4 linked regions of the Homo sapiens genome follow. The protein of the gene in region 2 purifies or fractionates together with the protein of the main gene of each other region. This does not show direct contact. Each region holds a gene or a part of one and is shown on either strand. Other genes may lie near its edges. The genes, in order: ANKMY2, ADCY8, PLAA and OMA1.

What was found.
Region 1: the proteins of ADCY8 (region 2) and ANKMY2 purify together in Homo sapiens (affinity purification with mass spectrometry; one large-scale study listed by BioGRID and IntAct). This does not show direct contact.
Region 3: the proteins of ADCY8 (region 2) and PLAA purify together in Homo sapiens (affinity purification with mass spectrometry; one large-scale study listed by BioGRID and IntAct). This does not show direct contact.
Region 4: the proteins of ADCY8 (region 2) and OMA1 purify together in Homo sapiens (affinity purification with mass spectrometry; one large-scale study listed by BioGRID and IntAct). This does not show direct contact.

The regions. Positions count from the first base shown.
Region 1 is NC_000007.14:16,636,658-16,644,841, forward strand, and holds part of ANKMY2 (ankyrin repeat and MYND domain-containing protein 2), read right to left. Parts: intron 1-8,184. UniProt on the Homo sapiens protein: May be involved in the trafficking of signaling proteins to the cilia.
Region 2 is NC_000008.11:130,898,420-130,906,603, forward strand, and holds part of ADCY8 (adenylate cyclase type 8), read right to left. Parts: intron 5,624-8,184; coding exon 5,353-5,623; intron 1-5,352.
Region 3 is NC_000009.12:26,923,799-26,931,982, reverse strand, and holds part of PLAA (phospholipase A-2-activating protein), read left to right. Parts: intron 1-3,574; coding exon 3,575-3,675; intron 3,676-3,762; coding exon 3,763-3,883; intron 3,884-5,422; coding exon 5,423-5,590; intron 5,591-6,022; coding exon 6,023-6,158; intron 6,159-8,184. UniProt on the Homo sapiens protein: Plays a role in protein ubiquitination, sorting and degradation through its association with VCP. Involved in ubiquitin-mediated membrane proteins trafficking to late endosomes in an ESCRT-dependent manner, and hence plays a role in synaptic vesicle recycling.
Region 4 is NC_000001.11:58,534,461-58,542,644, reverse strand, and holds part of OMA1 (metalloendopeptidase OMA1, mitochondrial precursor), read left to right. Parts: intron 1-3,334; 5' UTR 3,335-3,350; coding exon 3,351-3,850; intron 3,851-5,903; coding exon 5,904-6,132; intron 6,133-8,184. UniProt on the Homo sapiens protein: Metalloprotease that is part of the quality control system in the inner membrane of mitochondria. Activated in response to various mitochondrial stress, leading to the proteolytic cleavage of target proteins, such as OPA1, UQCC3 and DELE1.

The sequences.
Region 1 (8,184 bases), on a different chromosome or scaffold from region 2:
ATAGCTCCATCTTGTTTTTATTTTCACTGACCTTAAAGTATATTACATTGGCCACATTTTCCTTTTGGCGGTAATACAATAACCACAAAGCATAAGACTTAATACTGAAAAAAAATCTTAAAGGGTATCTAATCCAAATCACCATCTGAAGCTTAAATTCCAGTCAATGTAATACTTGGAATTCAAAATGCAGTCAGTATTTATATAATTTGTCAGCACCACATCTTGTGAATTGATGACATATTTATAATAGAGTGCTTGGTTTGGAAATACTTAGGTGAAACACATCTTCAATGCCTAGTACTACATTACAGTGCTCTATGATCAGTACTCACCACCCTGAAAGTCAACTAATGTAAACCTTAAGGTCACTCCTCTGTAAATTTGGAAAGAAGCTATAATTGGGCCAAAGTTGTCAGGTTTTTCCAGTCTTCTATAAGGCATAATGACAGAAGCATACTTGCAGGAGAGAATGTTGCTATTATCATTAGTACAAGCCAGCCACACATTTTGCCAAGAAATTTCTGGTTTTACTGGGAAGAGAAGAATGAAATTGAATGTGCTGAGGGAGAAAGGCTAAGATAAGCCTCTCCTATAAAAGAACATAAAAGAATAGGTAAGTCTCCCAATCAGGTTATTTCCTCTCTTTAAATTTAGACTTGTAGTGCAAGACTGTGCTAAACTCTGCTAGCCTTCTAGAGTTAAAGGTGAAATGCAAAATAAAGATTAGCATGCTTTTTTCTCTCTGACCCACTTCTTAAGCAAGTCACCTGAGTTCCCCTCACCAACAGAGAAAAAACAGAAACATCTCCTAGATAGAGAAGTAGCTCTGTTGGGAAAATGTCAAGTGAATGATCTACACGTCCCTGGAGTATGATAGCAGCTATTTTTTTTATAAATAATGCATTTTTCTGACCCTGTATTCCATCTGAAAGCAGTTAGTATCACTGGCTGAATCGCTATGCAAGGGCAAAGCTCTTGTGTGTGTGAGCATGCGAGCCAGTTCTACATGAAACCTTATTCGTATCTGTGTCTTCTCATCAGAGACTTTCTCAAAAATCTTTATAGAAGAATAAAACCAGAACAAAAACCCCGCACCCCAGTTTCTCTTGAGGAAGATGCTTCATCCAAATCCCATTCTCTACTGAGAACCAAAGTTATTTTCTTTTTCTATCTGCCCAAGAGATGTTTTTGCAAGAAAGGGAGAATACTATAGTGATTGTAAGCATGTCAAAACCTGCTACATGGGAAGAGTAGAATGGGGATTAAGATCATAAACATTTGGCTCTCATTAGAGAACAGGCTGATAATTCTCTAAGGTGTTTGCCAAATAGCCAACAATCTAAGTTAACATATTCTGTAAGGGAACAATATATTTTAAAGATGATGCATGTATAATGGAAAACAAACTGTTCTCTCCTGCTTAACTCTCACTCAATAGTCTCAATCCTTCACTTCTGACACCAGATATATGGGGTTTCCCCCATAAACACCAAGCAATTCTCCATTGGACACCAATGGGGTATCCTATAATTTAACTCATTTCTAACATTGTTTATCTAAAGTTAGTCAGATCTTACAGGTCAAGGGCTCAGTCCACAAGACCGTCCCCACTTCAGATGCCAATCATAAGCCCCTGTACTTCTGACTGGCTATAAATCAGGGTTCCCATGATCCCCTCCTCAGGTTCCATAATTTGCTAGGACAGCTCACAGAACTCAGGGAAACACTACTTACATTTACCCATCAATTACAAATAATATTACAAAGGACAAAGATGAACAGCCAGATGGAAGAGGGGCAAAGAGCAAGGTATGTGGCACTTGGCACAGAGATTCCATGCTCTTTCCAGGCACTCATTCTTCCAAGAACTTCCACGAGTTCAGCAATCTGGAAGCTCTCTGCAACCTGTAGTTCAGTAATATTTATGCAAGCTTGATTACATAGGTGTGACCTATTATTAAGTCAGTCTTCAGCTCCTCTCCCTTTCCTGAAGATGCGGGGAGGGGTGGAGTTGAAAAATTCAACCTTCTAATCATGGCTTGGACTTTCTCATGACCAGCCCCCATCCTGAAGCTATCCAACAGTCGCCTCATTAGAACAAAAGACATTTCTAACGCCCAGGAAATTCCAAGGGATTAGAAACTCTGTGTCAGGTACCAGGGTCAAAGACCAAATATTAGAACAATAGATGCACCTAGCACCCCATTGTTCAGGAGATTATAAGGGTTTTAGGAGCTCTGTGTTAGGAGCCAGTGGCAGAGACCAAATAGATATTTCTTATTATATCCTACATGTACACGTACCCACAATCACACTAAGGTTAGCCTTTTGAAATGCAGGGGCTGGAATGAGAAAAATAATCTGAAACAGATTGGGCTTCTAGAGGGTAAAAATAGATTTGGAACATGGATGAGCAAAACACTCCAAGAGGAAAAACTGTGATGATTTCCAATTCGGTGTTCACAATGTAATGACATTAGTCGGAAATTATAGAAGGTCCAGAATAGCATGGAAATGTGAAACACATGGCTCACACAGAAGGATTTTTACTTTATGTCATTCCTACTGTCCATAGTAGACTTAAATAATATTTTACAAGTAAGTGTAAAAGATTAATTGCTTTATTCTGGGAAATAAATATGTTAAATCTGATTTAACAAACTGCTGGGGGTGGAAGATAGAGTACTATAAGAAGGGATGTGCAAGGAGCCAACATTTACCTTCATTGGAGATAAGAAACAACAGACCTAAACTAATTAAAGTAATAATTAGTGATTTATTTCCCTTTAGAGAATTCCTCCAACTGCTCAAACCAAAGAAGAAAATACAGCATAACCTGCCTCATTAGGGTGGAATTGATCACTTTATCTGGATGAACAAGCATTTTAGGAGAGAAAAGATTATGTACATAATATTTTCCCAGCATGGACAACATAGTGAGACCCCATCTCTACAAAAAATTTTCTAAAAAATTAGCAAGGTGTGGTGGCATGGACCTGTAGTCCCAGCTACTCAGGAGGCTGAGGTGGGAGGATTGCTTGAGCCCAGGAAGTTGAGGCTGCAGTGAGCTATGATCATGCCACTGTAATCCAGCCTAGGCAATAAAGTGAGACCCTGTCTCAAAAGAGAATGATATTCTTAGTGTTACTGCTCTCTCTTCTACTACATTATAGCTTTTTCAGGAATACTATAAAGTGGAACAAGACCTGCAAAACTTGGCCAGGCATGGTGGCTCACACCTGTAATCACAGCACTTTGGGAGGCCAAGGCGGATGGATCACCTGAGGTCAGGAGTTTGAGACCAGCCTGGCCAACATGGTGAAACCCCATCTCTACTAAAAAAAAAAATACAAAAATTAGCCAGGTGTAGTGGTGCGTGCTCGTAGTCCTAGCTACTCAGGAGGTTGAGACAGGAGAATTGCTTGAACCCAGGAGGAGGAGGTTGCAGTGAGTCAAGATCGCGCCACTGCACTCCAGCTTGGGCGACAAGAGCGAGACTCTGTCTCAAAAAAATAAGTAAATAAATAAATAAAAGTAAATAAAAAGACCTGTAAAACTCTCAGTTTCCTTATCTATGAAATAAGGATAACAATATCCATCCCACAGTTATCTGAGGAGTGTCCTAATGTGGAGCACATATAAGCCTTTATTAGATCTTCTTTTTATTTTGTATTCAGAGCAGCACAATATAATTCATTGTAACATTTCTAATATCTAGATCGGGAACACGGGTCTCTACCAAAGACAAGAAGATGCAGCCAAAACAAACAGAACAGGAGAAACAAACATTCTGTTTTCAGCAATTCATCACACAACCATGAGATTCAAACACGTATAGATTTCAATCGTTATTCATTATTATTGTTTTAATTTTTTATAGATACAGGGCCTTCCTCCATCGCCCAAGCTGGAGTGCAGTGGCATGATCATGGCTCACTGCAGCCTTGAATTCCTGGGTTCAAGCAATCCTCCTGCCTCAGACTCTTGAGGTGCTAGGACTACAGGTGCACGCCACCGCACCCAGCTAATTTTTACATTTTTTGTAACAACGGGGTCTCACTATATTGAGACCCAGGCTGGTGGCAAACTCCTGGGTCCAAGTGATCCTCTTGGATCCTCCCAAAGTGCAGAGGGGTCACTCTACAGGCATGAGCCACTATGTCCAGCTGGATTGCAATCATTATTTATTGGAAGCCACGAAAACGGATATTTTAAGGAATATATAATCAAGTTAAGGATTTAGAAATCTATTTGGCTTTGTTAGTTGTTATAGTGTTTACGTATAAGTAAAATCATGTAAAAATGTTTAAAGTGCCTTAATTTTAAAACAAGAACATATGGATATAGATTTTGATATAATCATAGATATAAAGCTATAAATATATTTTAAAAGTGAAACCCCATCTCTACTAAAAAGACAAAAATTAGCCGGGCGCGGTGGTGCACGCCTGTAATCCCAGCTACTCAGTAGGCTGAGGCAGGAGAATTGCTTGAACTTGGGAGGCAGAGGTTGCAGTGAGCCGAGAGCGCACCATTGCATTCCAGCCTGGGTGACAGGGTGAGACCCTGTCTCACACACAGACACACACACACACACACATAGTGGAGACTTCTAATTATAACATGCATTTTGAAATCGTGAATTTGTGCGATGTTTCTAAAAGGTCTCCTACTCATATCTATTTTTAGACTTTGTAAAAAAATGATCTTAAATTAGTATTACAGAGCACTGTATAAAATTGGGAGTATCTAAAAGAGCTGTTGCTGTGAAAATGAAGACAATGAAGCCCATATAGGTTGCATAACCTGTCCAGCCATCCAACTAATGGTAACCATATATTTTAATTTTTTCTTTGAACTCTGTACTATAATTGGTTATAAGCAGACTTGAATGTTTCTCAACCATAAAGACACCAGAAGTATTATTAACGACACAGGACCTTAGAACAGGATCTTATTTCAATAGTCCCAAATTGGAAACAACAATTGGGCATCAATGGGAATGGATGCACAAATAGTAGTATATCCTTCCACTGGAAATAAAAGAAGAAAATAAGCTACATACTATTGGTACACATAATAAATATGAACCCCAAAATCATAATGTTGAATGAAAGAAGCCAGCCCCCCCTCAAAAAAAGGATACTTATTGTATGATTCTACTAATATAAAATTCTAGAATAGAGAAATCTAATCAACAGAGGCAGAGATCTGTTAGTGGTTGCCTGCAGATGGGGGTGAAGTTAGTGACAGATCACAAAGAGGCATAAGGACTTTTTAGGGGGTGATGAAGATGTTCATTATGTTGATCTTACTGATGGTTTCACAGATGTATGTTTAAATCAAAACTGATTAAAAAGTGTGTACTACCTGTAATATGTGCAATTTATTGTATCTCAATAGTTGGTAAGAAAAAGCCTTATTATCCAAACTTGTTTCATAGCTCCTTTACACAGATATGAAAAAAAAAAAGGAAGTATAATACTTTCTTGTTAGCAACAGTAAGCCCAGGAATTTCAGGTACTAAATAAGAGAAGTAATGTGAAAATTATCTAGCTCATAGCCTTAAAAAAGGTTTAATTTATTTCATAATAGTGCTTGCTCTGAGATTAATGAAAAAGGTATCAAAGCTTAGAAGAATGGGTAACTCTACAAGTCATATAAGCCAGTTAAACACAGTTCAGTGATTTCAATTTCCTCTTACATACTGTTAAATGAATGCTGTCATTAACTATGATTTAAATGGGTATGTTGGAAACAGATTTTCATTTTCATCTGGAACTTCTTGGCATTCTAATAAATAAAAAGCCCCACTTAGAGTCTGTCTTTCTGGAGAGCAGTGGCTGGCAGATGGGAATCACTTAAATATTTGCCGAGTTTATTTCAGATTGACCAAGATGCCAGGCTAGACTTTGCTGAAAAGTTGTTAGTTCAAAGTACTAGAACTTATTGTCTCATCTAGAGTTTTTCAAAGTTGAAAAACGTATGAAAGAAAAAAAAAAAAACTCACTTCACCCACTTTAAAAAAAATGCCTCTTTTTGGCACAAATATAAACTTTGCTTATGGCCTTTCTTCAACTATAAAATAAAAATTTACTTTAAATTTAATGCACACAGAACTACAAAATCAGTAACATTTAAAACTGAGTTAACTTGACAGATGTTGTTTTGCTAGAACTAAATGACCTCTCAAAGTGAATATTGTATGGACTGCTATGGTACTGTTTCATGTTTTGTTTAGTTTGTTTTTAGGTACAGCCTGTTTATTACCTATGGGCCCTGTGATACCTCTGCTCTGCCACTTTCTGCCACTTACCTGTTTGACACTAAGTTTCCTAACTTCCCAGTTCCTCAGTTGCCTTGCCTATAAAGTGAAGATTACTATATTTATCACAAACACAAGCAGTATTTCGAATGCTTTAACTATACTAACTACTTTCATCCCCATAACAACGTTGTGAGGTGGGTATTATTATTATTCCTATTTTTCACACAGAGGACTTGAGGCTCAGGAAAAGTCACTTGCCCAAAGGCCACATCACCAGTAAATGAGTTAGAATTTCAAACCAGACCTGCATGGTTAACCACTATCCCATGCTGTCTCTCATACTGTCATAGCTTAAAATTAATTCCTAGCTCATCCAAATTAAATGCATTAATATATGTAAAGTACTTAAAATTATGTGTGGCTTGCAATAACAGTCAATAAACGTTGGCTATGGTTGTTTTTCTCATATCTCCCATTACTTTTCTTTATGAGTGCAAGTGATGTCCCACAGACCTTCATTTGACAAGAATGCATCACATACTAGGTCCACATCAGTTCTTTTCTCATTGGCATGGTCCAATGAAAGCGATGAAAGCATCAGTGCACTCATGCAACTTGATGCACCGTGTGAGCCCAGAAATATCACAGCACTAACCAGAATAAATGCACATTAATTCAGGTTTATATAATCTTCAAAATAAATACTGATGGACACCTGAGAATGTATCCAAGGAATCCCTTCTCCCCTCTCAAAGACTCAATTTATAAAACTGCTCACTATTTTTCACTTTTAAGAGATCACATGATGGGCCAGGCCCAGTGGCTCATGCCTGTAATCCCAGCACTTAGGGAGGCCGAGGCAGGAGGATCACTTGAGCCCAGGAGTTCGAGAGCAGCCTGGGCAACATAGGGAGACCCCCACCACCCCATCTCTACAAAAAAAAAAAAAAAATCTTTCTAAAGTAGCCGGGCATGGTGGCTCGCACCTGTAGTCCCAGCCACTAGGGAGGTGGAGGCTGCAGAGAGCTGCAACTCCAGCCTGGGTGAAGAGTGAGATCCTGTCTCAAACAAACGAGAGAGAGAGAGAAAGAGACAGCGAGAGCGAGAGAGAGAGAGGACATGTACTAGCTCTGTCCTGCCTAAAAGAATTTTTGTCCCTGGTGGATTGTGAATTGATCCTTTGTCTCCTTTTTGCCCAGCACAGTACCTGGCACACAGCTAGAACTTGCATGTTTGCTTAATTGAATCCCAGAGCCATCAAAGGCAGGGAGAAATTACCTAGAGACAGGAAGAACTGAAAGACTGAAATGCCAAATAGGTCAGCAAGAACCATGCAGTACAACAATCTAAACTCTAACCCAAATCCCCAAATTCCAGGCAAAGAACACATCATTGATAGATATAGCTGTGACTGACTTAGAATAGTTGAGATCAGATCGGGTGGGCTCAGCTCATCAGCACCTGTTGAGTTCAAACCGGAATTTTTTCTCCTTCGCATGTGGAGTTTCCTTGTCGCTATGAAGAATAAATCTGCCTTATTCTCTAGGATTCCACATTTCAGCCTGGCTACTAAGTAAATAAAACTGGAAACTGGGAAGCCTTATGCTGCAATGACTGGCATCTCTGCCATTCGAGGACAAACATGGCTATATTATTATTGAGTTTAAAATCACCACATTAATTGCCCGGAGTCGCACGCATCACCATCCCTGCACCGTGAGGGTGCAGAAGAAGCATGCAGTCACGCTGATGTCACCTGCCAGGTAACGGGACTCGGCAGGGAACTCCTCTGGGACGTCCACTCGGGGACTCCGGGGAAATATGGCTTCTGGCTCGTCCTCGGGGCTCCCCGCTGGGACTCAGCACTGCGGAAGTGGGGCACGCCTTGGGGGAGTGGACAAGAAAGCGCGAAG
Region 2 (8,184 bases):
GAAATTCCATCTGTGTTTATAATCCTCATGGTAAACACATTAATTTCAAGATAACAAAAATGCCTCAAATCAGTCTATTGCATAGAAATGACTAAAACATACAGTGGAGGTACCAGTTGTGTACTTTTCTCCATATGACTCTTTCAAAAGGCCTAGCGGAGTAACAGAAACATGCCTGGATTCTCAGGCTGTAATAAATGTGAAAGGGATGGATGGGATGAAGATGATTCCACAACATACGGAAACAAATTCCAGGCTCTGAAAAGGGGCCTTGCTTCTCAAAGAGTAGCCTCAGTTCTCTTGGCATATCACTTGTCATAAAAATCCAGTTAAAATGATTAATATCCTACACACAATACATTTTTATAGCTACATAAAAACCTTTGGTATCTTCTTGAAAATCTGAAGTCTAAGACGGATCTTTTTTCTGCTAAGTCTACTCTTGTCCCGACAGTCCATTCTTCACAGGCAGCCAAAGTGATCCCTTAAAAATCTAATTGAGATCACATCACTGCCCCGCTTTTACCCTTTCTATCACTTCTGGAATAAAATACATCAACAAAGCTTGCAGGACGGAGGTCCCAGCCCCTTCAGCTCCATCTGTTACTCCTTTTCCCTGCTCACTATGCTCTAGCCACTTGGGACTTTTTGCTGTTCTAACACACTAAACTCCTTTCTACCTCAGGGTGTCTGCACTGCTTTTCCTCTGTTTAGAATGCTCTTTTCCTGCTTATTTGCATGAGAGTCCTTTTAGCACTCATATTAAATCTTTAGAGAGACTTTCTCTGACAATGCCTTCTGTATGCTATATACTCCCTGGTCATATCTCTCTATTTCCTTCATTACACTTATATGTTTTGATTAATTGTCTGCATTCCTCACTCCTTTGAAATGTAAGCTCCTGGGCTGGGTGCAGTGGCTCAAGCCTGTAATCCCAGAACTTTGGGAGTCTGAGGCGAGTGCATCATTTGAGGTCAGGAGTTCGTGACCAGCCTGGCCAACATGGTGAAATCCCATCTCTACTAAAAATACAAAAATTAGCCAAGGGTGCTGGCACGCGCCGGTAATCTCAGCTACTTAAGAGGCTGAGTTGGAAGAATCGCTGGAACCCGGGAGGCGGAGGTTGCAGTGAGCCGAGATCGTGCCATTGCACTCCAGCCTGGGCGACAGAGTGAAATTCCATCTCAATAAAAAAAAAAAAGGAGAAAAGAAAAGAAACATAAGCTCCTGGAGGACAGGATTCATTCATTACTGGATCCTCAGTATGTAGTACACTTGAGTATCTGTTAAATAACAGAATGAACAATAGCTCAAGCCCAGATATAGATTTTACTCAGAGCATGCAGCAGAAAAGGAAAATATAACCTTTATGATAAGGATCCTGTTCTTATCTTCCTTTCATTTGCAATGTTGTCTTTCAACTGAGAGATTCAATGTCCATGTTGATAACTCATTTAATAATCTAGCCTTGAACTTCCTGGATATTCTCCCCCATATGTGAAATTTTTCACTTTTGATCTACTTCAATCATCTCCTTCTACTTTTTAAATCTTAAGTTCCAATAGTCCACCTGTGATCATAAACTTCTTGCCTTCTAGTTTCCTTACTTTCATTTCACCTGGAAACTCAAGGCATGGGGAGTCTCACTGGGATCTGAGTCAGGGTTCAGGAAACCAAGGCATCAAATTAAGAGGCAGAACATCTGCACTTGTCAAGGGCCAGGGATATAAAAGGGCATGGGTGTTCAGGATGTCCAAGAGCAAAACTTGGATACCAGAATGGGGTCAAACCAACAATTTTAACCCAAATGGATACAGATACAGGGGCAGACAAGACACAGCATCAAAACCAAGGGAGTATGGTCAGGCAGACAGAAACTGGAAGACTCACATAAGGGGCCACAGATAATTATTAGTGATTTTCATTGCTCCTCCAAGCCATTTACAAACTACTGAAATGGGTAGAGGGAAGGGAACAGGGGTGGAACTGGAGTTCTTGGAAACCCAGAGCCACCTCTTACCAATTATGATGACCTGGCTTCTGACTCTACCATCTCACCAGATCTGCCTCTTGCCAATGATGTCCTTCAATCCAGTTCCAATAGGCAGCTATCAGTCTTCATCTTCCTGGGCCTCTTGTCTCCATTTGACTTTGCTGATGGCCCCTTCCTTCTTAAAATGCCATACTCTAGGCTTCTGTGACACCACATTCCCTAGTTCTCTTCTGACAACTTTGACTGTTTCTTCTCTGTCTCTGCCAAGGAATACGAATCTTTCACCTTCCAACTTGTGCTCCTCAAGGTCTGCTTGTGTCTTCTTGTTCCTTAATTTTACAGATTCTCAACAGTGATCTCTTTCACTGCCATGTCTTCTACTAACACCAAAATTCTCGTGACTATGAATACCAAATTCACATCCCTTGCACAGTTCTTTTATGCCTGAGTTTCAGAAATGTGTGATCACTCTCCCTGGATTTTTCCCAGACACTTCAAGCTCCACATGTCCCAAAGAGAATTCCTAGTCTTCCTCACACAATCTCCTATTCCAGTACTGCTTATTTTAGTTGGAAGTTCTATCATCGACGCAGTTCCAAGCAAAAAATCTAGAATTCAAACTTGACTGATTCCTCTCCCTCACTACCCATATCTATCATTTAATTCACTTATTCAACAAACTTTAATCAAGCCCTGTGATTTGCCAGGTATTGTTCTAATTGTGGGCTAAATTGTGGTAAGTGAAACGGATATAATTTCTATCTTCATTAAGAATATAAACCACTGGCTGACTTTGTCTCTAAAGTGATTTTTTTTCCCCATCCCTCCTCTTTTTTTTTTTTTTTTTTTTTACTAGCAGTAGTTGGCTTGTAATAGATGCTCAATTAATCCTTATTGAATGAATGAATACATGAGGATGTAACTATCTGAACATCTGCTATCTACATAGCACAGAATATGACACAGCAATTTGATGCCATTAAACATATTTCTAAGCACATATTATGAATGAATAGAAGCCAAAACATCTGGCCAATTTAGCTGGAATACCCCCAGTGAAGCATTAGCATGCTTTATCTGTGTTATGCAAACACTCAGATGGTCGGGGCTTCCGTGGAATTGACTGGGTGTTTTGGCAAAGCATAGGCTCAGCCAGACCAGTCTTGATCTCTTCCAGGGACAAATTATGTCTCTGAATTGCACATATGGCTCACTGACTTCTAGAGTTAGGCATAAGTACAAACATTGAATACTTGTGACGGTTTTAATTGGCTCAGTAATTTCCAAAATATTATTGGTGGCACGCGGTTATTCATGAATATCAGCACACATTCACTTGCTCTTCAGTCTGAAGGCATCAAAATGAATTCAGATTTTTCGTGCTAAAGATGGCACAGATGGGTTACATCCAGGCAAAACTTGGGCATTAAAAAAATACACGGTATGGTTAAACAACACTAACAATCTCTAGCTAATAATGACATCTCTTATAATAGGTATTTGGTGACATCAGGAAATATCTTTAGGAAATCAGCAAATAAATATTTCAAGCATTCCTATACAGTTTAACCACATCAATCAACTATAGAATAAAACCAAGAACCTCCACCTCCCTCTTCTTGGCTCTCAGTTATTAGTAGCAAGTTCATGTACAATACAGATTAGAACATTAAGGAATTATCTTAATTCCTACAATCAGCATAACTGGAGAGAGATTTTTCAAAAATAAAGACAAAACAAAAACTAAAACTGAGAGAGAGAACTTTATGCTGAGGTATTCAGGATGAGGCATGCATTTCTTTCTCTTTAAATAATCAGCATACAGACCCAAGCTAACAATAGGCAAAAGCAGCAGAGAGGGCACTGTCAGCTGGTCATGCACCCACTCCAGGAAGTATATAACACCATTATTTTATAAAACAGCAAACTGTACCATGCACACCAACTCAGAGATGGAAAGAACCTAGGCATTGCAATCAGTTATGACTTTTGTGTGCATAATAATTTTTGGGGGAAATTAAACACTCACAAAAGAGCTGTCGAAGACCTAAGGGTCAACTCTTGCAAGGCATGCAGCCTAGGTTCAACCTGCAGCTTTTCCCAGTGGAATCTGGCCCATGCATTTTCTCATAGTTTTTCCCCCACAGATCCAGAAAGAAACCAAAGACAGCCTAGTCTCAGAGTGCCCCATCAAACTTTCAAATGCAGAAAAAAGAGGGGAGACTTTCAGCATTTTAACCTTTCCATTTAAAATTTTTTTAGGCAGACAGATTTTTCTTATCTATAAGTTAATGAGAAATGTTGAGGTCTATGGAATTTAAAAATTAACCCTTATATGTCTTCATAAAACTCCAGACACTATTGGCTGGGTACTTCATGGTACTCTCAGCTTCTGCTTGGTCGAGGATCTTATCAGAAACTGTCAGATAACTGTCAGATAAGTGTTATATATTGGCTATTTTTATTTCTTTCTCTAAAAATGTATAGTACAGTCACATCATTGAACTTATGTGAATTCAACTAAATGTGCTGTGTCTAAGAGGTTAAAGGGAAAATCCATATTAGAGCAGGTAATTTTGCCATGGCTCCAAGCAAGCATTCTGGGAGAACAGAATCTCTGTGTCCACCTTGGTTCTCGACCTGGCTCAGCCTCAGTTCTCTAAGTGCCTCTTGGAGTCTGAGCATCTCATTGGGTTTACTGTGATTTCAATATTTGAATAAATAATTTAAAAAGAATTTTGGTTATTGGTGATCTACTCCTTATGTACTGACTTAGTAGCCCTGTCCTTCATAGAAGATGCAAATCCATGCTATATAAAAATAGAATCATGTGGGTGGCTTTGAAATTGCATGCTCCTCCTGAACTCCCTAACTCTAGGCATCACTTGGTGCTCCTTTCCTATTTCCAAATCTGCAGTGCCCCCCTGATTTTGAATCTCAGAGGGTGACACAGAACTGATGATGGCCAGCTACCGAAAAAGGGGCATTCCCATGTACTTGATCCTCCCCTTTAGTTTAATAACAGAGGGTTTATTTTTTCCAACATGAGTGGTTTTTTTTTTTTTTTGGTAAAATTACAATTCAGCTTCACATAATATTTATTTTTAGCTAGGTTACAAAAAAAAAAAAAGAGAGAGAGAGAGGGTGTTAGGAACCCTCTGGCATTTCTGGCATTTCCTGAAATTGCATACGAGGTTAATTCTGTCCTGAGGAGACAGAGAGATAGTTTGATCATTTGCAATTATGGTGTTCATTGGAGAAAAGGTTAAAGATGAATCAGTTTTCTCTGAGGTGTCTGGATTGGAGATGCACACGAGCATGCATTCATGGCCAAGCAGAAGGAGGAAGAGAGGACTTACATTCTGTTTCCCCACGATATTATCAAAGGGCAGTTCAGGGCTCCAGGATCCTTCAGTGAATGTGGCCCCACTGTTTCTCCGGTCTGAGGAGCTCACTGACTCCTTGACGATATCTTCAGGCAAGGACAGCAGACTGTCCTCAGGCTGCTTAATTAAGTAAGTTTCGATATTATGCTTCCTCAGGAATTCATTCCTCTCTTTACCATGGCCCTCTTCCACGTTATAGTCACCGTTGAGACAGTCCAGCGTGGCTTTGGAAATGTGAATCCTCCTGTGTGTAGAAGGCATAGGTCATTACACACTCCTGATGTTGCCTGCAAAGGCTATATTTTTTTGACCTGTACAAAACCAACACCAGGGTTACACAAGGGTATTATTAGGACATGTCCTCAGGGACAATACTTGTCTTCCTAAAAAGTAGAAAGAATAAAAGAAAATAGAAGCATAAATTCATGAGCACAGTATCACGGACATCGTCCCAAGAGACACTGCTGCCTCTGATAAAATACAGCCCTTCTGAGCCACACCTAAGCACATCTTTTGGCTTTTCTTATGATTGTCAGCCTGATCCCAGCAAACTTTACAAAACAGTGATTTTTTTTTTCAGTCGTGTTGATTATATTGGAAAAACAAGTGCTGCAAATGTTTCTGAACCCCAGTGGCAATCATTATCCAAATCACCATGCAAAAACAGTTCTTTCTTCGTCTTGGAACCTGTCCTATCATTTCAATCTTCATGTATTTGTAACTTGTTTCTCCAACTTGTCTATATTCTTCTCAAGGGTGATTCTGATAAGTCCATAGGGCTGCACTGAGGGTCCTTTGGGAAAACCACTGTAGGGTACAATTTCCCCTATAACATGTATATTATAAGGAGCAAAGAACAAAGCTGTGGACATGTGCAGGCTGGCAGCTGGCTGGGCTCACTCACAAGTGAAGTGACTCATGGCTGCACAATTGTCAGCCACTGTGGCTCATGACTCAGGCTTCTTTTTTAGCAAAATAACATATGACATCAGGGCCTTGAGGATCAAACTTGATTCATGGAAATTTCACATGGTAAATTCTTCTGGGGAAGAGTTTTTCTGTCCTCGTAACTGTCTAACTCAATCATACTACTTATTGCGTTATAGTGTGGTCTGGGTAGACTAGCAAGGTAAGGTGGTTACAAACATGGACTTCATTGCTAGATCTCCTAGATTCAAACCGTAGCTCTGCCACTTGCCAGCTGAGAGATCTTGGGCAAATTACTTAGCCTTTCTATCAGTCCATTTTCTTACCCATAATATGGGAAACATAATAACACCTATCTCTGACTATTATTGTGATTATTCTACGAGTTGATTTGTGTAAGGTAGTCAAAACAGTGCATGGTACAACATATACACTATAAAAGCAAATATGTAAGTTATTAAGAGTATTCTAAAAAATGCCATTGTCATCATATTACTGTTGTGTATTCCATGCCTTCTCAAGGCTTGCAGAAGACTATTGTCAGGCCTTCTGAATAAGGCCTCCAAGCTTTCATTCTCTGGCTCTGTCACTTCAAAGCTCATTTTCTGACACTCCTCTAATATAGCTCTCCTATGCTCTCTCCAGCTATTCAAGTAATTGGCAATTCTCCAGATTCAACGTACTATTTGGTGCTTACTAACAATTTCCTACTGTCCAATTCTGCTCAAAAGTCATCTTCCTAAGTTTACTTTAGTGTTCATTTGAATGAAAGAATGCTTAATATTTTGATTGGCTTTTGGAATGCTAAGAACAATATATCCAAGTAAACAGAAAAGTTTTTAAAAAAAATTTAGAGTGGCTTTTAAAAATGCACTGTAGTGGCTCATGCTGAGGAAGCCGAGACTGGTGAATTGCTGGAGCTCAGGAGTTTGAGACCAGCCTGGGCAACATGACAAAACACCATCTCTACAAAAAAATACAAAAGTTAGCTGGGCGTGGTGGTGCATGCCTGTAGTCCCAGCTACTTGAGAGGCTGAGGTGGGAAGATCGCTTGAGCCCAGACAGTTGAAGCTATAGTGAGCCGAGATCATGCCACTGCACTTCATTCTGGAGGACAAAGTGAGACCCTGTCTTAGAAAAAATAAATAAATTCATTAATTAAATAAAATGCAGTTTACTTTTAGTATTAGCTCTGCTACTCCCTCTCATCCTTCTAACCCATTCTGCTAAATCCCTCCTTACAGAAAGAATAGTTCATTGCAAAGAACATGTGAAAAACCAGAAACTACAAACAAATCATTTCTGATACTTCATGTTCTCCACATCTTCCACATAAATATCTTGATTGATTTCAAGTGCAAGATGTTAAAAATAAATGTGTGAAAGATGTTTTCACTCTCTTGAGAAATGTGCTGAATAAATACAAAATATTCCCAAGATGCATTTTGTTAATACATATGAACTCAATAATATTGACCTGGGAGAATAACAGATCGTTTGACCTTCCATGAAATGGAAGTCCCCATCCGCTTTCTCAGATGAATCTGAGTTAAGACTGGAAGCTTACCTTTTCTCCTAGACAAAATGAACCTGGTAGGAGGGTTTTCTAAAGTACCATGGTTGATTTTCTTTTAAGATAATTAAGTTACATATCAACCCCTTTTAGCATTTCTCTGGATTCTATTTTTATTATTCTGCTGTCAGTATGCAAGGGGACAAATACTTCCATGTATTAAATCAATATTATGTTTTCACTAGTGAAAGAGATCCTTGCCTTCACTGATTCTTCTGCTGAAGTGCTAATCAATATGCACTTAAATGTTTTGGTAGAAACTGGGTTTTAGATGTTTCTTTTCATCCTTGTTACTAACTTGAGCT
Region 3 (8,184 bases), on a different chromosome or scaffold from region 2:
CCCAAGTAGCTGGGATTACAGGTGCCCACCACCACGCCCAGCTAAGTTTTTTGTAGTTTTAGTAGAGATGGGGTTTCACCATGTTGTCCAGGCTGGTCTCAAACTCCTGACCTCTGGTGATCCATGTTGTCCAGGCTGGTCTATAACTCCTAAACTCTGGTGATCTGCCTGCCTCGGCCTTCCAAAGTGGTGGGATTACAGGCATGAGCCACCGTGCCCAGCCCTACATCTTTCAATCTGTCAGTTTCTTTCTTTTTTTCTTGTTGCTTAAAACCAGATTATTTTAGCTGTAGAATTTCCCACAATCTCAGTTTTACTGGTTAAAGCCTTGTTTCCTTTAATGTGTTCTTCAGTCACCTATATTTCTTGTAAGCTGTTAAATAGATCTAGTAGCTTTATCAGGTTCAGATTCAAGTTTTTGGCAACAGTATAGGTGGTATTCTGTATTTTCTATTGTATCACATCAGGAAGCACACAATATCTTTTTGTGATATTAAGATTGATCAGTGGGTTCAAGTGTTGTATCTTTCTTTCATTATAAAGTTCCCATCAGCCTTTCACATAATGGTAATTTTTAGCAGCTACTGATAATCATTGCCTAGATTCAATATTTTATTAAGGTTTACAAAATGATTGTACTGTAATTCTAATATTATTTCTGCATTTGATCGCCAAGACTTTTCTGTATAGATCTTTCCACATCAACTGGTTACCATGTGGGACTTCTATACAGAAAAGACAGAATAAATGCTTTCCTTGACCCTTCTCCCAATTTATTTACTGGTTTGCAGAAGGAGTTGTTTCCTGAATTTTTTTTTTTTTTTTCAGTTCTCAAATTGTTCCATATCTGGCCATTGGAAACCTCTTTAAATTGGCTCCTGTCACCTTTTTATAAGACCTTCAGTAGTCTTCCTTGCTTTATTACAGAATGTTCTAGGTTCAGTTTGTACACTTCTTGCTCTAGACCTCAAACCAGCACTTTTGCCAAGAAGTCCTGTTTTTTTTTTTCTTTTACTGGGAAATGGTATTTTATCCAATTATATCATACTGATTTGTGGAAGAATGTAAAGAGCACCCAAGTTACAACTATTAAGATCTCAGACTGGGCATGGTGGTGCATGCCTGTAATCCCAGCACTTTGGGAGGCCGAGGTGGGTGGATCACTTGAAGTCAGGAGTTCACGACCAGCCTGACTGACATGGTGAAACCCTGTCTCTACTAAATACAAAAAAATTAGCCGGGCATGGTGGCGCATGCATGTAATCCAAGCTACGTGGGAGGTTGAGGCAGGAGAATCACTTGTGCCTCGGAAGCGGAGGTTGCAGTGAGCCAAGATTGCACCATTGCACTCCAGCCTGGGCAACAAGAGCAAAACTCCCATCTCAAAAAAAAAAAAAAAAATCTCAGTGATGTAACATATGAGTATTTCTCATTAACCCTACATGTTCAACATGGATTAATAAAGGGACTCTGTTCATCAGATTTTCTCAGGGACCCAGGCTAATGGGGCTTTCTCTCCACACATGCTTCAGTAGTTGTTGGAGCAGTCAAAGGGCAACATGGTTAATAAGGCACTGGTTGGCTGGGCGAAGTGGCTCATGCCTGTAATCCCAGCACTTGGGAGGCCAAGGCGGGCGGATCATAAGGTCAGGAGATCGAGACCATCCTAGCTAACACGGTGAAACCCCATCTCTACTAAAATACAAAAAAATTAGCTGGGCGTGGTGGCGGGCGCCTGTGGTCCCAGCCACTCGGGAGGCTGAGGCAGGAGAATGGCGTGAACCCGGGAGGCAGAGCTTGCGGTGAGCCGAGATCACACAGCTGCACTCCAGCCTGGGCGACAGAGCGAGACTCTGTCTCAAAAAAAAAAAAAAAATAATAATAATAATAAGGCACTGGCTTTTAAAAGCATGTGCCTTCCTTGAATGTCACAGTAGTAGAGAATTAAAAAAATCAATTTTAAAAAAACACCAAAAACATGTGTGTGACTGAAAGTGTCAGCTACCGTTTTGTCTGGTGACTAATGCAAGTATCATGGCTATGCCTAACTTCAAATGGAGGAGGAAAGTACCATTCTCCCATGTGTCCAAAAAGGGAGAGTTACCACAGCATGCTTTCTGGTCATCAACGATTCAGCTTCATCAAACAATCCAAAAGTCTCCTCTGAGTGATGCTAAGTATTCTAAACATCAGAGAGGTGATGCTTATAAGTAAGCTGTCAACCATACCCAATATACAATTATGGAAAAGGAATAGGATAATCAGAGCAAACACTCATTCAGAAGAGGAAGCAGTGCAAGACAACAGTTTTTGATCTAGAGCCATTCTGAAATCCAAATAAGTAGCTGTCTCAAGGATCCTCAGCTCAGGGTAGAGAGACTTTTGTGATTGCTTCCTTCTGGTCTAGGAAAAAGGTTTCCCAATCCAAGGTTCTTTATGGCTGTGCTTCGACCGCCAATGATACTCTTCTTTCCTAAGATAATTTTTCTTTTTTTTTCTTTTATCTTTTGAGAGAGGGTCTCACTTTCTTGGTCATACCAGAATGCAGTGCTGCTCTCACAGCTCACTGCAGCCTTGGCCTCCCATGCTCAAGCAATTCTCTTACTGGGACGACAGGCGCGTGACACCATGTCTGACTAATTTAAAATTTTTGTTTTAGAGCTGGAGTCTCACTATATTGCCCCAGGCTGGTCTCAAACTCCTGAGCTCAGTTCAAAATGCTAGGATTACAGGCATGAGCCACTCCACCTGGCTAATTTTTCTTTTCTTTCTTTTTTTTTAAAGACAGAATCTTGCTGTGTCACCCAGGCGTGAAGTGCAGTGGTATATGATCACAGCTCACTGCAACCTCTGTGCCCTGGGCTCAAGCAATCCTCCCACCTCAGCCTTCCAAGTAGCTGGGAACACAGGCGCATACCGCCACACCCAGCTATTTTTTTGTATTTTTAGTAGAGATGAGGTCTCTCCACATTGCCCAGGCCGGTCTCTAACTCCTGAGCTCAAGCAATCCGCCTGCCTTGGCCTCCCAAAGTGCAGGGATTACAGGTGTGAGCCACTGTGCCTGGCATAATTTTTCATATTTGTAATTTTTAGCCTGCATAATTTCACATCAAGAAAGTAAGACATTTAATTAACCACTTCATTACTTTTGGACATTGAGCTTGGCTGCAGGTTTTATGGTCACTGTCATGAAAGCAGCCTTAAATATTTATATAAACAGTGTTTCAAAATCATTTACATTATCTCCCTATTATGATTTGTTAAAGCTGGAAGGATTGTGTAGCTCACTTAAGTTCCGCTCCCTCGTTTCACAGACAAGGAATCTGATTTTGAGTAATATTTCTGCAGTTACGTGGCTTGTAAGTGGCACAGCTAGGCCTTGCGCCCAGGCAGTCTGGCACCAGAGTCTGCTCTTGACCACTGTACTCTTATGCGTCTCTGCTGAATTGAGCCTTAGTTAGCTAAGATACTGCCACTTCAAAGAGTGTTTTTAAAATTGGAATGCTTTAGTAACTTTCAATGTTGAGCATTTTTCTGTATGAAAATGTGTTATCCAATGATGTTTTTTCCTTAGTTTGTAGTCTATCATCTGGAAAATTTGGGACATTACTTAGTGGTTCATGGGACACCACTGCTAAAGTCTGGCTGAATGACAAGTGCATGATGACCTTGCAGGTACAGTAGTTCTGTGTAAATATTCTAAAGAATAATTAAGTTGAATGATTCTGTGGCAACTTAAATTGATACTCATTTTACTCACAGGGTCATACAGCTGCAGTGTGGGCGGTAAAGATCTTACCTGAACAGGGCTTAATGTTGACTGGATCAGCAGACAAGACTGTTAAACTGTGGAAGGCTGGAAGATGTGAGAGGACTTTTTCAGGTAAGATCAGGGTAGACAAGTTTTATAATATCATTGCTTTTTATTTGCTCAGATTTTTTTTCTCAGAAGTTTACAAGCATGAAAATATTTGAAAAACATTAGTATATTTAAGCTATTAATTTGAGTTAATGTAATTTTTCTGATGAGTTAATATCTAATACATTTAAAAAGATAATGAAACCTCTCATAAAACAGCCAAATGTAGACTGATAAATAGCTGTCTGATAAGCTATATATAATATGCATATGTGCTTCTGCATATATGTATGTAATTTTTGGTATATAGTTATATTTTTGGTTGTCATTTTAATACTTTTAGCCTGAAACTTCTAAACATAAGCCTTACTGATGGTCAGTCAGCAGTGTTATCTTCATATATGGAAGAAATCATTATTAGTGTCTTTATATTGAAGCACATTGTTTATAACGAATTTCAAGCTTTGTTTATGTTGTGGTTTATGGTGAGTATTCTTTTTAAACCCCAGCTATTAAATAATGCCAATACTGATGCATCTGCTATCTAATAGTAATATCATTGATTTATTTGTAGGGTACTTAAGTATTTACTGTTAATTTTAATTGGTGTTGTTTTTCCTTTTTGAATTTTTTCCTTAAAAGTTGGTAACTACCCTAGATAATATGCAAGAAGTCCCTTTGTACAGATAAAAGTATCTTTTGGCTGGGTGCAGTGACTCACAACTGTAATCCCAGCCTTTCGGGAGGCTGAGGTGGGTGGATCACTTGGGGCCATGAGTTCGAGATCAGCCTGGCCAACATGGTGAAACCCTGTCTCTATTAGAAATACAAAAAAATTCGCCAGGAGTGGTGATGCACACCTGTAATCCCAGCTATTCGGGAGGCTGAGGCACAAGAATCTCTTGAACCCTGGAGGCACAGGTTGCAGTGAGCAGAGGTAGTGCCAGTGCACTCCAGCTTGGGCCACAAAGTGAGACTCCATCTCAAAAAAAAAAAGAAAAACAAAAAAAGTATCTTTTGATGGAAAGTGGATGATGACTAAACATCCTTCTGTTTCTGCTTCAGTATATAGTCTATATATATGTATCAAGTCATTATTAATCTGTGATAGCTACTCTTAAGTCAACAGATACTGAACATAGGAAATCTGACTTCACAAGCTTCAGAGAATGTTTTGTTCTTAAATTTATGGGCTACTCTTTGTTATATATTTCTTTTATATTTGAATATTATATATTTTATAAATTACTCTTGTTGGGGAAGAAAAATTAAAAATGAATTTTCAGGTGAAAACAAATTATTGGGGTCAAAATACTATTTCTGGAGGTTTTTGGAGAAGGTAGGATGAATGTAAAATAACTTCTGAAGACTGGTGATAAAAAAATATTGCTAAACCTTAAATACAAATTTTGGTTATCAGGCTTTCAACAAAAAAAAAGATTTCTCTAACTTGAAAATTAATTTTTACTACTCACTGATATGTTTTATAATGTTAGTAAAATGTATAGAGCCATCAGCCAAATTATCAGTTTTATTGATTTGCATTATTGTTTTTTAATGCAGGGCATGAAGACTGTGTAAGAGGTTTGGCAATTTTGAGTGAAACAGAATTTCTTTCCTGTGCAAATGATGCTAGTATTAGAAGGTGGCAAATCACTGGCGAGTGTCTTGAAGTATATTATGGACATACAAATTATATTTATAGCATATCCGTTTTTCCAAATTGTAGAGGTAAGATTATTTTATGCTATTTATTTAATGTTTTGTATTGAGCATTATTCCATCCCATTTGTGAGATGGAGGGAGGAGAGCTGATTACTTAATTTACTATCTATGACTTGAATAATTTAGTAAATTTATTTCATTAAGTATCTTTCTCCTGTTTACAAAGAAGAAAATTGTATGGCCATCTTTATATTAATTCAGATTTATGTTGTGCTGTAAAAAGTTCTTGGGTATCTGAAGAAACACTTTGTAAGATGTGACATGAATAAAAAATGTGATTTTGAAGTTGTATATGTTGTAAGTGACAAACATATGAAATTTAAAACTGTAATTTTGAAAGTCTCTGGGTTTCAAAAAGTCAGTGTATCTAGAAAGATGGTATGTATAAATGTACTTAATTTTATTCAAACTAATACTTCCTATATTCATTAATTTTAGACTTTGTGACAACAGCAGAGGACAGATCTCTGAGAATCTGGAAACATGGGGAATGTGCTCAAACTATCCGACTTCCAGCTCAGTCTATATGGTGCTGCTGTGTGCTCGACAATGGTGACATTGTGGTTGGTGCGAGGTATTTATATTCTAGTCAATCATTAAATGTTATATGTCTAGGCCTTCAGTAGGAACTAGAGTGTACAGAGATAAGCCATAAGGAATTTCACGTGACTTGAGGAGACTATATGGACACTTCAATTACTAAACAAAACAGTAGTAGATATTATAGCTTTCATACTAAGGGATGCATGATATACCAGTATTGTACTGCAATTGTGCAGTCAATGATGCATGATATACCAGTATTGTACTGCAATTGTGCAGTCAAGATATTGACTACAAAAGAAGTTAGAGAAGGTAGAGATTGGTGTGGGAAAACTTTCTGTAGAAGAAGAAATTTGAACTGGATTTTGAAAGATTATGAGTGAGAAAAGATACGCAAATTTTTGTCAAAGCTAAGAGTATAAGTTTCCTTCATGAGAATGAATGCAGCATGCATAGGAAGTGAAGGAAAATGGTGGAGTACTAATGCTGAGATAATAGGTACAATGGGGCTTAACTGTGGAGAACCTTTAGTGCTTTCATGCCAGGCATTTTTTAGATTCATTGCCTGGGGTTGAAGGGTTGTAGTTCTTGAGCAAGAAATAGGATTGAAGCAGAACTTATGAATTACTAAATATGTAGATTGGATTTAACTGCTGGTGACAATGGACAGGAAAGTAAATTAGAAAGCAAGTACAGAAGGAGTGTGAAGTTATAAGACATTGGCCCCACAATGCTAATGGGTAGGAAATAAGTAAATGAGATAATCCAGAAGGAAAACAATCAGAAAAAGTATGAAAGAAAAGGATAAAGCTTCAAACTGTTAGTGATTGGAAATCTTCATTAATAAAAATGGAGAAGTGGGAGAATTGGTTGGGTACAGAAGGTGATGACCGTGGCCTTAGACTTCCTGAGGTCTGCAGTGGTGGTGAGCCACACTCATGCCAGTGGATCATGGTCATTTGAACTGGAGCTTAGTATAAGAACTGAGGCTAAGATAAAGATTTCGCAAAGCTTCCAAAAGCAAAGCATAGAACACCATTCTCTGAGGGAAGAAATACAGGGGAGGAACAGAAGACTAAGAACTAAGTTTTATGATATACCATTAGTAGAGAAAAAGAAGTTAGTAGGTTAAACAGAACAAAGGAATTCAAATGTTGAAATTTCTGGGAGACAGAAAAGGAGAGATTTTGGAGGGAGATTGTCATCAGTGTCAAAAGTGTTTGAGGAGTCAAAGAATGGAAAGTTTGAAAAGCATTTGGATTTGGTTTGAAAGATGTTATTAGTGACTTTTGGCATCAATCACATTTTGAATAGAAAATGATAGAAAAAAAGGCAAATAAGAGGAAATAAAGGGTTGGAGGAGATGGACGAAGGATCATAGACTACTCTATAATGCTACTCTAGCATTGAAAGCAATAAGAAGGCCAGCTGCTGTGGCTCACACTTGTAATCCCAGCACTTTGGTAGGTCCAGGTGGGAGGATCGCTTGAGCTCAGGAGTTCGAGACTATCCTGGGTGAGCTACCGAGACCCTGTCTCCATACAAAAAAAATATTTAATTAGCTGGGCATGGTGGCATGCATTTGTAGTCCCAGCTGCTCAGGAGACTGAGGTGGGAGGATTGCTTGGGCCCGGGAATTTGAGGTTGCAGTGAGCTGTGATTGCCGCCCCTGCACTCCAGCCTAGGTGACAGAGTTGGACCCTGTCTCAAAGAAAAAGAGAAGAAAAAGAAGGTGACAGCTATAAGGGATAGAGGGTCTAATAAAGTGGGTGTTTTATTTTTTGGCTGGGACAGAGGCTGATTTATAGGCTTAGTTTTTTTCCCTCCTAAGCATATGAAGAAAAACCAATAGAACGAGTGATGTACATGTTTGTGGACGAATAAGTTAGAAACAGGTTTCCTGTAGAATGGGCCAGGATTAATACAGTTGGAAGTGTCTAATTTGCTTCTCCTATCTCAGAATTTCGAATTAAGAAATCATGGAGATAAAGTAATTTTTCTGAGAAAAGAGGTTAAGGACGGCCATCTAATCCAAACATTAGGCCATTTTTTTTCCT
Region 4 (8,184 bases), on a different chromosome or scaffold from region 2:
TAGAAGAAGACTTTACATTTAAACCTTAAAACACTTTCCCATTTAAAACAGTTCTTTCCATTTTTTTTTGTCTTTCTGCATCTGCCTAAATGGCATGAAAAATAATTGCTGCCTTCCTGAACTCTTCAGCTACTCATGGATGTCTTTTTAAGAATGCATACAGTATGTAGTATTTAATAACTGAATTTTATTATCCCCTAATAGTCTTACTTAGGTTCAGTTTTGTCTCCCCAACTAGATTATAACCTCCATGAGAGCAGGACTATATTCTGTGCTGCATAACTCTCATGGCCCCTAGCCAATGAAAACCTTACTAGCTACTCCAGTATGAATTGTGAAATGACTTCTAGGCTTAAATTATTTAACAATTTTTCAGCTTGGTTCAAAAAAGTAAAAACAAAGTATCTTGTTAATAATGTCAAACTATTATATATCAGCCTGGACTTTACTAATTTAAAATTGGTTGTATTTCAAAAAGGGTTAACTCAAAGTTAATGTTTTACTTAGCATGCCCTTTATTAACATTATACATTAACAGTGCAAGGGCAGGATGTATGAATTACATAAAAAATAAATTTGAGTAATTTTCAAATGGTTTGATATATAGATAATACTATTAAAACTGGTAGTCCTGGAGCATCTTTCTAGATAATATCGTATTAGCTTAGGTTGAAGTTTACATATTTTTTTCCCCAACTTTTATATGAAGATTTTGAAACATGCAGAAAAATTTAAGGAACACATATGTAACTATCACTGAGATACAATGATTGCTGATATTTTGTTTATTGACTTTATGTCCTTTGTGTGTGTACCTTTGCTGTACAATTTGAAAGTGAGTTTTATTTATCATGAACAGATCCTTCAGCAAGTATCTCAGGAATAAAATAGTCAGATAACCACAATATTATCACCTAAGAAAATAATAATTACCTAAAACAACTTGAAATTCAATTCATATTTAGATTCCCTCAATCTGGGTTTTTTTGTTTTTTGTTTTTGGTTTTTTTTTTTTTTTTTTTTTTTTTTTGACAGGTTCTCATTCTGTTGCCCACGCCGGAGTGTAGTGGCACAATTTTGGCTCACTGCAGTCTCTTGCCTCCCAGGTTCAAGTGATTCTCCTGCCTCAGCCTCCCAAGTAGCTGGGTTTACAGGCAAGCACCACTCTTTGTAATCCCTTCCCCTGCTGCTTTTTTCCTACAACTCCTCAAGCAGTCACTCATCTCTCTGTCACTATGGATTAGTTTGCATTTTTTGCAGTTTATATTATAGAGATGTAATCAGAGTATGTACTTTCTTGTGTTTTTCCTGTTTTTTTTTTTTTTTTTTTTTTTTTTTTTTTTTTTTTTTTGAGACAGAGTCTCACTCTGTTGCCCAGGCTGGAATGCAGTGGCGTCATCTCGGCTCACTGCAACCTCCGCCTCCCGGGTTCAAGCGATTCTCCTGCCTCAGCCTCCTGAGTAGCTGGGATTACAGGCAAGTGCCACCACACCTGCCTAATTTTTGTATTTTTAGTAGAGACGGGGTTTCACGCCTCGAATGCCTGACCTCAAATGATCCACCTGCCTCGGCCTCCCAAAGTGCTGGGATTACAGGCGTGAGCCACCATGCCCAGCTTTTTTTGTGTTTTTCAATGAATTTATACAGTTCACCTAAGATGTCAAGTTTAAGATTTTATCTTTCATTGATTTTAAGAAGTTATGTGCCTTGTAGTTTTTTTCCTTTGTGTTTCTTTTGTGTAGGATTTGTTAAACTTTTTGAATTTGTGGTTTTATAATTTTCATCAAGTTTGGAAAACTTTTGGCCATTATTTCAAGTGTTTTTTTTTTCTGTCTACACCTCCTCCCCGCTTTTTGGGGACTTCAGTTAGATGAATATTAGGCCACTTGAAGTTATTGCATACCTCATTGATGCCCTGTGCCTTTTTTTATTATTGTATTTTTTCTCTGTATTTCATTTTAGATGGTTTCTATTGATACGTCTTCAAAGTCACAAATCTTTATTTCTACAATGTTAATCTGCTGTTAGTCTCATCTAGTATGTTTTTCATCTTAGTTCTTACAGTTTTCTTGTCTAAAAGTTTAGGTCTTTTAAAGAAATATATTACATATCTCTACATAACATGCTCATATTTTCCTTTAGCTTCTTAAACATGTGCAGTATAGTTACAATAACTAATATCCTTATCTACTAATGCTGTTATTTGTTTATTTAGGAGTTAGTTTCCACTGATTGATATTTCTTCTAATTGTGGATCACATATCTTGCTGCTTGCATGCTTGGTGATTTTTAATTATAAATTGCACCTTGTTAAGTGTTAAATAGTTTTGTGTCCTAATACCTGTTTAGATTTTTTTTTTTTCCTGGGATGCAGTTGTTGCTTGGAAGCATTTAATCTTTTTGGGGGTTGCTTTTAATATTTGTTAGGTGGGGCCAGAGCAGCTTTCGGTCTCAGACTAATCTTTCTCTAATGTTGAGGCAAAACCCTTCTGAGTACTCTACCCACGAATGATAAGGTTTTCCACTTTGAATGGTGGGGAGGGGATAGGCAGTATACCATGCCCTGTGTGAGCCCTGTATATTATTCCCTGCAATCTTTTCAGGTGGCCCTTTCCCAGCTCCAGGGAATTTTCTTACACATATGCCCAGACAGGACTCAGCTGAATATGGGAGGGGGATTCTCTGCAGAACTCTAGAGTTATTTCTCTGTGCAGCTCTTGTCTTCTCTTGTCCTCTGTCCTGTGAGCTCTAGCAACCTTGGTTTACTTGACCTCCCAGCTTTATCTCTTCGATTTAGGGGAACCACTGGGCTCCACCTAGGTTTACCCTGTCTGCATTGTGGCCTGGAAGCACTCTCCAGGCAATAAGCTAGGACAGTTGTAGGGCTCTGTTTCCCATCTGTTAGGGATCACTGTTCTTCATTGCGTAATGTCCAGTGCATTTTATAAGTTAGATTTTACTATTCTGTATCACATGCTTCCTTCCAGTTATTGCAAACTGATAAAGTTTTACTGTTGTTTTTATCTAATCCACTTTATTGCTCAAATCATTTGCCATTAAAATACAAATGGCTCTTCCCTAACTAAAAATTAAAAATGAAATGAAAAAAATTCAAGCTTCTAAAGTAAACGTTGCATAGTAAATATCGTGGTATATATACTCTGGTTTATCTTGCTGAAAGGCGTTGCTCTAGGGGTGATGAGTTGAAACCCAAGGTAATTTAGCCTGAGATGTGTTAGAAGAACAACTGACACGCCTATTTAATAAGTGTTATAGTCCCAGTTTGGTAAGTAAATATTTTCCACAGATATTTATAGTTTTTTTTTTGTTTCAGGTAGTCAAGTGAAAAAATGAGCTTCATCTGTGGATTGCAGTCTGCTGCTAGAAACCATGTTTTCTTCCGATTTAATTCACTGTCTAACTGGAGAAAATGTAACACATTAGCATCCACCTCACGGGGCTGTCATCAAGTACAAGTTAACCATATAGTAAATAAGTATCAGGGACTGGGAGTAAATCAGTGTGACAGGTGGAGTTTTCTGCCTGGAAACTTTCATTTTTATAGTACTTTTAACAACAAAAGAACAGGAGGCCTCTCAAGTACCAAAAGTAAGGAAATTTGGAGGATTACCAGCAAATGTACTGTATGGAATGATGCTTTTTCAAGACAGCTGCTAATAAAAGAAGTTACAGCAGTCCCTAGTCTGTCAGTATTGCATCCTCTAAGCCCTGCTTCCATAAGAGCTATTAGGAATTTCCATACTTCTCCACGGTTTCAAGCTGCTCCGGTTCCTCTCTTGTTGATGATTCTTAAACCAGTACAGAAGTTATTTGCAATCATTGTAGGCAGGTAAAATGCTTTTTTAGAATAAAAACTTTTATATTAACTTTTTGCATTAATATTTTGTGCTAACGTATTAACTTTTAGAAATTAATTTTTTTATTTATAAAACTGTACTTTTAAAGAAACCTTGCCAGATCCCCTGTCTCCCCCCATTTAGCTCAAAGTGAAGTTTCTAAACAGTAGGTCCTGCCCAATTTTGTTCTGTATGATTTAATAATCTTGAAACAATTTCCTGCATACTAATTTATGGTATAGAAATATCTCTTTAAAAAGTTATTCTTACATTTTGTATAGGCATTAAAAAAATCTTATATTTATGACTACAAAATCTTAGGATATATGGATCAGAAGTGCTGGTTATCACTTATGTATAAGAAGAGTACTTACAAACATTTCTTTTTAATTTGTGGAATTTAAGGCAGCAAATCATAAAATTGAGGAACTTTGCTTATATAAGGGTGGGCTCACTCCTAGTTAACTCTTAAGTCATTAATGCTTCTTTTCTTTCTATTCTGTTCCCAACAAATCTTTGTTTTTTTCCTTGGTGATCCTTTATAATAATATTTTCACAGCTTGTAGTGCTTTAACCCTTTTTCTCTTGTTTGTTTTATGAAGATGGAAGAAAGCTAATCACTGTTTCTTCATAAAGCTTTCTTGTGTTTGATGACTGTGAAGTCCCTTCTAGCCTTCTTACTACCACATGAACCAAACCAGTTTGCTTTTGATCAAAAACCAAGAACTTCTATTTGTAACTTATTGTGTTTTTCATGATTTGGTGTTGGCACCCAAAAGCGATACAGCTGTATTGACTATTGGTTGAAGTAATACGCTCATCCCAGGTTCTTCGGATGCTCTTTCTGATTTCTGCTATGTCCTCATCCTTTTAAATTATTTATTTGTAACTTTCTTGTTTTTGTTACTATTGTTGATCACCTAAAATTTTTCATTTAGAATATGTCTTTCATACATTTTAAATAAAGGATAATGTCATGTAAAGTTTTAAATAGGAAATAAGTATACTCGATAGTTTGATTTATGTCCCTTTAAATGGACACACTTTGTGTAAAGGCATTGGGGTGTGTCACTTCACAAAGAGAACTTTAAGAATTTGTAAAATAAATTTTTGTCAAGAGAATGATGTATATATGGTAAATTTTTGTTGTGATTTTACAGATCAACTCATAAGGAAAATTTTTGTCCCAGTATTGAAAACATTGCTTGTTGTCAAAATGTTTCTGAACACTGCTAAGTGGCAGAGAGTATTGTTGCCTGGTAGAAATTGGACCTTCTCAGATGTTATCTATAAAATCTCCCACTTTCTTATGAATACCTAGGATCTTGTTATCTCTCCTTTTTCACGTTGTAAAGAGGATAGTGGAGTTTCTGCTACTGAGCACTATTTATTTCCAAAATGAATGCTGAGGCAGTTTCCCTTGTACCTTGTGGAATCACTGGCAAATTGTGTTGGAGGTCTGAGGAGCAGTGGGAAAAGTAGTGGTTCCAGGTATAGATTTATTGTACTGTAACCTCTTACATAATTATTTAGGCATTTATCCCTATTAAGTGGCTAAGTGGTCAGACTCTGGAATGTCATTGCCTTCATTGCTTGGTTTTCCTTTTATTACCTCAGTGGCCATGGACAAGTTACCTAACAATTTTATCTTCTGTAACAGGGTTATTATGAAGATTAAATGAGATGGTATATATATATATACAGAGAGAGAGAGAGAGAGAGAGAATTTTGCATGTACTAGATAGTAATAAATATTAACCAGTGGTAGTTATAGTAAACTAGCATCTCATTTAGTGTTTATCCTTAAAATAGCTGAAGAAGAAAATTTCGATGAGTATTAGAATTTTTTAACTGTAACTTTACATCATTGATTATTTTTTCATCATTTAGCTAAGAATTTTATTAATTGGAAAAGCGATGTATTCAGCGAAATACATCATACAAATTCAGGTATTTGAGGACGTAAAATTCTAGTGTATGCATTTGAGCTTTAGTGATATGTGCTGGAATGATTTTCAGAACTTTGAATTTTTCTTTTTGCTTTAGGGGCATAAGGAAATGGTGGCAGGCACTTCCTCCTAACAAGAAGGAAGTAGTTAAAGAAAATATAAGGAAGAATAAATGGAAGCTATTCCTTGGTTTGAGTAGTTTTGGATTGCTCTTTGTGGTGTTTTATTTTACTCACCTGGAAGTAAGTCCAATCACAGGAAGGAGCAAGCTACTATTATTGGGGAAAGAACAGTTCAGACTTTTATCGGAACTGGAATATGAAGCAGTAAGTAGTAAGAGTTGTTTTTAATTAGACTGCTTAATATAACACTCAAAGTAGGAAAGTATCTTAAATGTGAAAGATATGTTGTTTTTTAATTTTAGTCTTTGATATGAAATTAGCATTTTTTTTTCCCGAAGGCCTCAGACCTTTCACACTTAGTATTCCTACTGCCTACATTGCTTTTCCTAGCATTCACCCAGCTAACTCCTGCTCAGCACATTTCACCTTAAATGTCACTTTTCTCAGGAAAACCTTCCTTGATTATCCAGACTGGGTTAGGCAGGGTGACTGGATCAGGCCCTAGGAGGTATCCTTCATACCGACTGAATTATGAACCAGCTCATTTGTAGTTGCGCCCATTGCTTGGCTTTACTGGGGTTAGGTCTCCTAGGCTTTTTTTCTCTGCATACTGTACTTTTCCTTCAAAGCACTCATGAGAGTAACATAATTATTTGCATAATTATTTTTTTGATTGTCTTTCTTGTTAGACTAAGCTTCATGGGGGCAGGGATCTTACCTGTTTTGTTTATGGTTTTAAATACTAACACAGTATGTAAGAGTAGAGCTTAGTATATATTTATTGAATAAATAGATTTATAGTCAGAATTCTTATACCTTGAAAATCAAGTAATATAAGATTTTTTTCCCAAACATCAGTTTTAGCAATTTATTATATTTTTTGAATCCAAATTTAAGTTATAATTTAGAAGTCTTACCTCTTTGGAAAGTATAGTAACTCAGGTAGTTAAACATTTTGTACCCTAGTGAGTTTCTTAGGGACAGAGGTCATTTTCTCTCCAGTTCATAGCACATACACATGTTATGTGCCCTGTGGCTCAATTAATATTTTTCGAATTCATGTCCAGTAGCCTCACTTGACAGCTTTGGCATGGCTGAATCTTTTTTTTTTTTTTTTTTTTGAGACAGAGACTTGCTCTGTCACCCAGGCTGTACTGCAGTGGTGCCATCTTGGCTCACTGCAACCTCCACCTTACAGGTTCAAATTATTCTCCTGCCTCAGCCTCCCGAGTAGCTGGGACTACAGGCGTGCGCCACCACGCCTGGCCAATTTTTGTATTTTTAGTAGAGATGGGGTTTCATCCGTGTTGGCCAGGATGGTCTTGATCTCCTGACCTCGTGATCTGCCCACCTCCTAAAGTGCTGGGATTACAGGCATGAGCCACCATGCCCAGCCGCTTGTTGATTCTTAAGTGAAAAAAAGCATACACTTTATGAAAGTTAAAGTAATATTTCAGAACATTTTTAATTTTCTCAGTACACTTGAAAGAGCTCTCATGAATATAACTTCAGAAAAAGTATCTTCTGTGGTGGCTAGTCTTAATCAGCATCTTTTAGAGACAGTGATAATGCTCATTAGTTCTGAGAATTCAGTAATTTCCTTTCAATCTGTGAGTAAAACACCTTAAAATTAATGAAATGTCTATTTTGGTAGTTTAACTTTCTTATTAGGTATAGGGTGTTTTTCTGTTCAATGCATTGTGAATTTAATTTTCTTTTGTATTTTACTTAGATGAAATCTTAAGTTCTCCAGGCTCTCCTTTTCTTTTCTTTTTGAGATGGGATCTCCCTCTGTCACCCAGGTTGGTGTTGGAGTGCAGTGGCGAGATCTCAGCTCACTGCAACCTCCACCTCCTAGACTCAAGCGATCCTCCCACTTCAGCCTCCCATGTAGCTGGGAACACAGGTGCATGCCACCACGCCTGGCTAATTTTTTGTGTTTTCGGTAGAGACGGGGTTTCACCATGTTGCCCAGGCTGGTCTTGAACTTCTGAGCTGAGGTGATCCTCCTGCCTTGGCCTCCCCTAGTTCTGGGATTACAGGCGTGAGCCATCTTGCCCTGGCCTAGGCAGTGTTTTCTAAAATGTTTAGGAAAGTAGAAATAATACTTAAGTATTCGTTTGTAGTTTAATCGAAAAGAATGAAATTTTGATGTCAATCTATTCATAAAAAAACTTAGTATTAGAATTTATTCCTTTGTAAGAAACCACATTGTCTTTGCATGAATAATTCAGATTTGAGAAATTTCAGTGCTTA